Linked DNA regions of Homo sapiens: region 2 is linked to region 1. Evidence: fine-mapped QTL for protein levels in blood plasma. A gene starts in region 1. The other region holds a variant in brackets. All regions are shown on one strand. Distances are from middle to middle.

Region 1 (2,919 bases):
CTCACTGTGCACACACACGCACACACACTCTCCTCTACTCTGAAGATTATACATTCCTATAATTCATATTTGCTCTATATGCATTAGACAGACAGGAGGTGAGAAGTAATACAAGGCATCTAGTTAAGAAAATGGGGGAACAGGAGATGAACAAATGGGGACCACACCCTATCTAGAAGGTTCCCTTCCTTAGACCCCCATCCATCTAAACCCCCTTATTACCACCCTGGCACCTAATATTGTGCCCAGGGAAAGGAAGGGGTCAGAGTGACGGGCATTCTCAGCTCTCCTATAGTCCCCAACAGGTGCCCCAGTCCTGGTGCTCTAGAACATCATGGAGAGAAAAGAAGGAAATAGAAATCCCCCATCCACTCTCTGGGCATCAGGCTTCCTGCACCCTGATGACTGCAGAAACCAGCTGAGCTCTGAGTCAGCCCCAGTTCCAGGCAGCCGTTCCAGAGCCCAGGGGGTAGGCCAAGGCACCTCTAGGAAACCCTGGGGTGAACAGGATCCTCACAAGTCCCACCTGCCTGCCCATCTACACTGGGTCACCACGTCTATTCCCCAAGACAGCTCAGGCCTAGGCAAGGCTTTGGCAGAGGTGTCAGGGATCCCAGACATAGTGACCTGGCCTGGGGGCTGGGAGGAAACAAGAAGGGGGAGGGCTATACTGGCTTTTCTGGGGGCACTGCTGGAAGCTGGGGGCAGGAGAGACTGGATCCTCAGTTCAGAGTCAAAGAAAGGAGGATATGTGTGTGCGTGCGTGTGTGTCTATGTGTTTGTGCATGTGTGTCAGTGCCAGGTTGGGCTCAGAAGCAAGTGTCCTGATGGTTCAGGCAAGTCCTACCTGTAAATGATGCCAGCAGTAGCAGCAGCAGCAGCCAGGCCTCAGGCCCCCACATCTCGGCTCCCAGGGACAGGGGCATGGTTGAAAGGCAGACTGCCCAGCGTTTCTGAAGTTCCACCGAGATCTCCCTGGGAGCCGGCTGCAGACTTGAATAAGGAACTGACCCAGAAGGCAGGAAGCTGCAGAGTTCTTGCCTCTCGCACTTGGGTCTCCACTAGGGGACCCAGCCCCAGCCCCGGCCCCGTTCTACACACCCAGCCGTAGCTACCCCCAAGAAGCCGTGATCGGGAGCTCCGAGCTCCCCCAGAGCTGCTTCCCACGCTGTGGCCAACAACGACGGCAGAAACCTGGGAACCTGCTCAGCAGGTCAGAACAGGTGCGTCTCTGGGGGCTGGGCCTGGCACGGAGACTCAGCAGCCACCGCCCCCATGGCCTGGGCTAGCTAATAGGCGCCAGGGAGGGAGGGAAGGAGGGAAGGACCTGGGTGGGGGCGGTGGGGTCCCATCCTCAGCTCCAGGCTTTACCTGCGAGTATGTGGAAGGGGCTATGAAGGGAGAGGCAAGGGTGGGGACTAAGGGAGGCCCAGGGCACCAGGCCAGGCCAGGATGAAAGGGGCAAGGCCCTTGTGGGTAGAAAGGAACCCAAGCGTCCCACACCCCAGCTAGCCTTGGTACCTCCTGGGGGCCTTGACAAGTTCCCGGATCTCCTGGAGGGTCTCAGCTTTGGAGCCACAGAATCGGAGAAGGCCAGAACTGAGGAGGAAGGAGTCTGTCAGTGCTGCGCTGTATACTTCATTCTTCAGAAGAGAAAACCAAGGCCCAGAGAAGGGGAGGGACTTGCCAGAGGACACACAACTTAGTCTCATGGTTTGCTCAGACACCTCTATCCCTGAAGTAGGGAAGTAGTTCAAAGACCCCTGAGAAAGAACTTACGTAACTCCTCTAACTCCACCTCCATATATAAGAGGCCAAGGAAGTGGCCAAGGAATTAGCCGTAGGGGTTCCTGGTTTCCCTATCAGGGCCCTCTCTCAGCTTCAACACCTTGTTACCTGGCCAGGAGTCCCAAAAGCGCAGCAGCACAACTTGAATGGAGAGAGGTTCCTCTCTACCCTCTCCATGGCCATTTTACCCAGTTTACTCCAAGGTCATTGGACAAGACCACATGTCTGGACTTTGCAAGGAGAATCTTAATTTCAAGTACTCTAGCCCTGTATTCCTATAAGTACATCCTTGTCAGACCATGTGTTTCCATTCTGAATGCATAAAAAGTGACCGCCAAATTACACAAAACCTTCCTGGCCTCCCTGGGATAGCCAGAGGAAGAGGGCATATTCTGAGCCCACTGAAAATTTAGTGAACGGGAGGGACAACATCACTTGCAGTCTAGGGCTAATACAAAAACCAGGTAAATACAGAGATAGACGTGGGAGAAGAAAAAAATATAGGTTAAAGTTTTGCCATAGGACCCTTCCATCTGGAGAAGGCAGAAAGGAGGAATAAAGAAGCCATAAGGAAGAGTTGTTCTGTGTAGATTTTCTACCACCACCATCCCCACCAACTCTACCTGTCAAACTCTTATTCATCTTTCAAAGCTGACCTCAAATGCCACATCTTCGTGAAGCCTTCTCTGCTCCTCCCACCCCAAATTAATCTTTCTTCTATTCTTCCTCAGCCTTTGCTAGTCCTTTTATTATAGCTTATGTGCTCATAATTTGTGCACATCTTATCTCCTTAACTAAATTGTAAGCTTCAAGTCAAAAAAACATCGATTGAGGCCTGCTGTGTGCCAGGAATTCAGTAAATGTATTAAATTGCGGGACAGGACAAGAGTTGTAGCCTGTGAACTCCTTGAAAGTTGGGCTTGTTTTATAATCTTGTCTCAGTCTTCCATGCTAGGACAGGCCACAGCATTTCATGGGAACTGACTACATTTTGGTGAAGCCATGAATTTCTGAATAAATGAGTTGTCCGGATGAAAAGGATGGTGAAGTCGGATCAGTAAAGCAGAGATCCCGACTGGCTGTGAGTTACTATCCTGAACTAGGGTTGTGACCTGGACTTTACTCCTGTCA
Region 2 (2,500 bases), 15 kb before region 1:
GCATGAGCCAGGGCTAAGGAAAGAGGGACTGGTAAGGGGGCTGCTGACGCACCATATCTGGGACCAGGACAGGGGCCCGAGGAGAGTGGTGGGGACACCGGTGGGGCCGGGGGCCTCACCATCACAGAGCAGCTACTGTTGTCCTTGAGACTATCAGGGTGGCCCTCGGCTCTCAGCCCTACACTCTCCTCCGGCTGCAGGGCCCAGACACGGGGCAGTTAGAACAGGGCTCAGCCTCCTCCCCTCAGCCTCTTCCCCTCTTGTCCTCCACCAGCCTCCTCCCTACTTGCCTGTCCCCCAACCCAACAGGTCCATTCTCTCCTGGAAACAAACATCCTCATTTCCCCACTGCGACCACAAACCCACCCTGGAAGCAGAACTGATGGTGGCTTCCCAGAAAAGGCCCTAGGCCAATGCTGAAGGGGGCCTTCTGGAGCAGCCCTAGCAGACCCAAAGCAGCTACACCCTCTCAACTCTACCCCGGCCAACCCCAGCTGTGAGTCAGTGGCTGACCCAGCAGAGAGCTGTGCTCCTGGTCTGCAGAGGGGCCCAGGCACAAGCAGACCCCAATGCGACCACACCCCTGCATGCATACACCCAACCTTGGCACACACCTGGCTCCTGGGGTCCGTGTGATGGGAATGCAGCCTCCGGATGGAGTTCTCCCTGGTCAGGGTCAGCTCCTCCTCACTGGGAAAGACACACCCTTGTCAGGAGCTGAGGGTAGTGGCAGCCTCCCAAGGTGAGCCTATCCTGGCTGAGCCTAGTGAGACAGGCCCGGAGGGTGTGGGTGCCGTGCTGGCCCTGCAAGTGTGAGTGTGTGGCTGCAGGTGGCAGTGAGGCTGAAGAGCATGTGTGTGCTGTGTGCGTGTGCATACTTGGCAACATCCAGGCACATGGATCTGAGCCTCACTAAGGTGGAAGGATTGAGTGCTCCATCTGTGCTCCAGACCCTTAGCTCCTCCTCAGCCCTAGAAACACCCTGCCCACCTCTAGTCTGAAACTCCTCAGTTTTCAGCCTACCCAGTCTCCTCGGTCCTGGCCCACCTCCTGCTATCCTCTTCTTTGTTCTCAGCTTAGTTCTACCCACCCAGGAGTGCCCAGTACTCACTATTTCTGGGTCATCTGCTGGGCCTTGCGCCGATGGTATCGGGACATGAGCACCACCACCACCACCAGAAGGCAGAACAAGAGTGCGGCGATCACACCCACCACCACCACCGAGGCTGACACTAGGTCCACCTGCTTCCCAGAGTCTTCCTGGGGGTCTGCTGGAGACAGGC[C/T]ACTGTCTGAGGTGGAAGCCTGCAGCCACAACCCACCCCAGACCTCACAGCTCCCCCGCAAAACATCTAAAACCACACCTCAGTTTGATTCTCTGCAAGACACACAGCCCAGCCCCCTCTGAATAAACACTTTCCCAATTCACTGTCTCTGTCTTGCTTCCTGCTGCCCCCACCAAGCCCTTGGCCCAGGTCCTTACCAAGGACTTCTGCTCCAGTGCTTACCAAGAACATCCACAGTGACCTGAGAATCCCTTGAGGAGAACTCATTGCTGACATGGCAGACGTAGATGCCGCTGTGCTCAGTGGTCAGTGGGGGAAAGCCCAAAGTGTCCCCATCCACTCGTACCCCACTGGGCAGAGGCCCATCCAGCCTGGAAGACAGGGAAGCTGAAGGGTGCCAGCCGGGAAGGGCTGAAGCCACCACCACCCAACGTGTCCAGACAGCTCTCCACCCTCCACCCCCATGACGTCACCCAGAGCCGCAGGCTGTTCCCACGGTGCCCCTCCCTCCACCAGGCAGGTCTAGGCAGAGGTCCTTTCTCCCTGCTGCCCAGCCTGACCTGGGCACCCCCCACACACACCCGGGGAAGATCCACACGTGTGCCATCCCACATGCTTCCACAGGCATCACGTCATCCAACACTGGGTACCAGGTACACATGTTATAAAGTCCACACAACAGGACACTCCACTCCTAGCTGGGTGTAGAGGTAATTGGAAAATGTGACTGCCTGCTCCAACACCCGTGATGTTGCATGGCAGGATACACAAACATAGCCCCAGGCACAAGGCCACATGCATCGCTCATATGCTCACATGTGAGAACATGCCCATGATGTGCTCACACACATGTGTACCCAACCTCTCCCTGACTCTCTAGATATTTCAGATCTTGGAAAAAGGCCAAGGATGCCTTGAGGGAACTGGAGGTAGTGGGTGTTTTTGAGGTGCTAGCAATATTGTGGTGGTTATAGGAGTGTTGGCTTAACAACAATTAGAAAAAGACACAGCTGTCTTGTCCATTTTATGCACTCACATAAATATATAAAATATTAATATCGAAATATTGTGTTATATTTCACAATTTAAAAGTTAGACAAGGCCGGGCATGGTGGCTCACGCCTATAATTCCAGCACTTTGGGAGGCCGAGGCTGGCGGATCACCCGAGGTCAGCAGTTCGAGACCAGCGTGGTCAACATGGTGAAAGCCCATCTCT

Direction of the effects. Alleles are on the strand shown, and positions count from the first base shown. The strength of an association depends on the size of the effect and on how common the allele is.
With allele C in place of T in region 2, the plasma level of the protein whose gene starts at base 1,188 in region 1 is lower (moderate association).

What was found. PIP is the chance, under the fine-mapping model, that this variant and not a neighbour inherited with it causes the effect. The UK Biobank Pharma Proteomics Project read protein levels with antibody pairs (Olink). The fine-mapping took linkage between variants from a reference panel, not from the people measured, so its PIPs are less certain.
Region 2: its variant is fine-mapped to the plasma level of the NECTIN4 protein (UK Biobank, PIP above 0.99).

What each region holds. Positions count from the first base shown.
Region 1 is chr1:161,088,371-161,091,289 of GRCh38, forward strand. It overlaps NECTIN4 (nectin cell adhesion molecule 4), which reads right to left and starts at 1,188. Exons shown (of 9, transcript NM_030916.3): 1 at 848-1,188. The coding sequence starts at 926. NECTIN4-AS1 (NECTIN4 antisense RNA 1) reads left to right here. Exons shown (of 4, transcript NR_183641.1): 4 at 1-2,362.
Region 2 is chr1:161,073,106-161,075,605 of GRCh38, forward strand. It overlaps NECTIN4 (nectin cell adhesion molecule 4), which reads right to left. Exons shown (of 9, transcript NM_030916.3): 5 at 1,506-1,654; 6 at 1,112-1,268; 7 at 615-690; 8 at 120-194. Among named protein-coding and RNA genes, the nearest start is that of ARHGAP30, 4.5 kb to the left of the region's middle. RefSeq lists an enhancer at 1,648-2,324. The variant C/T (reference allele first, on the strand shown) is at 1,284.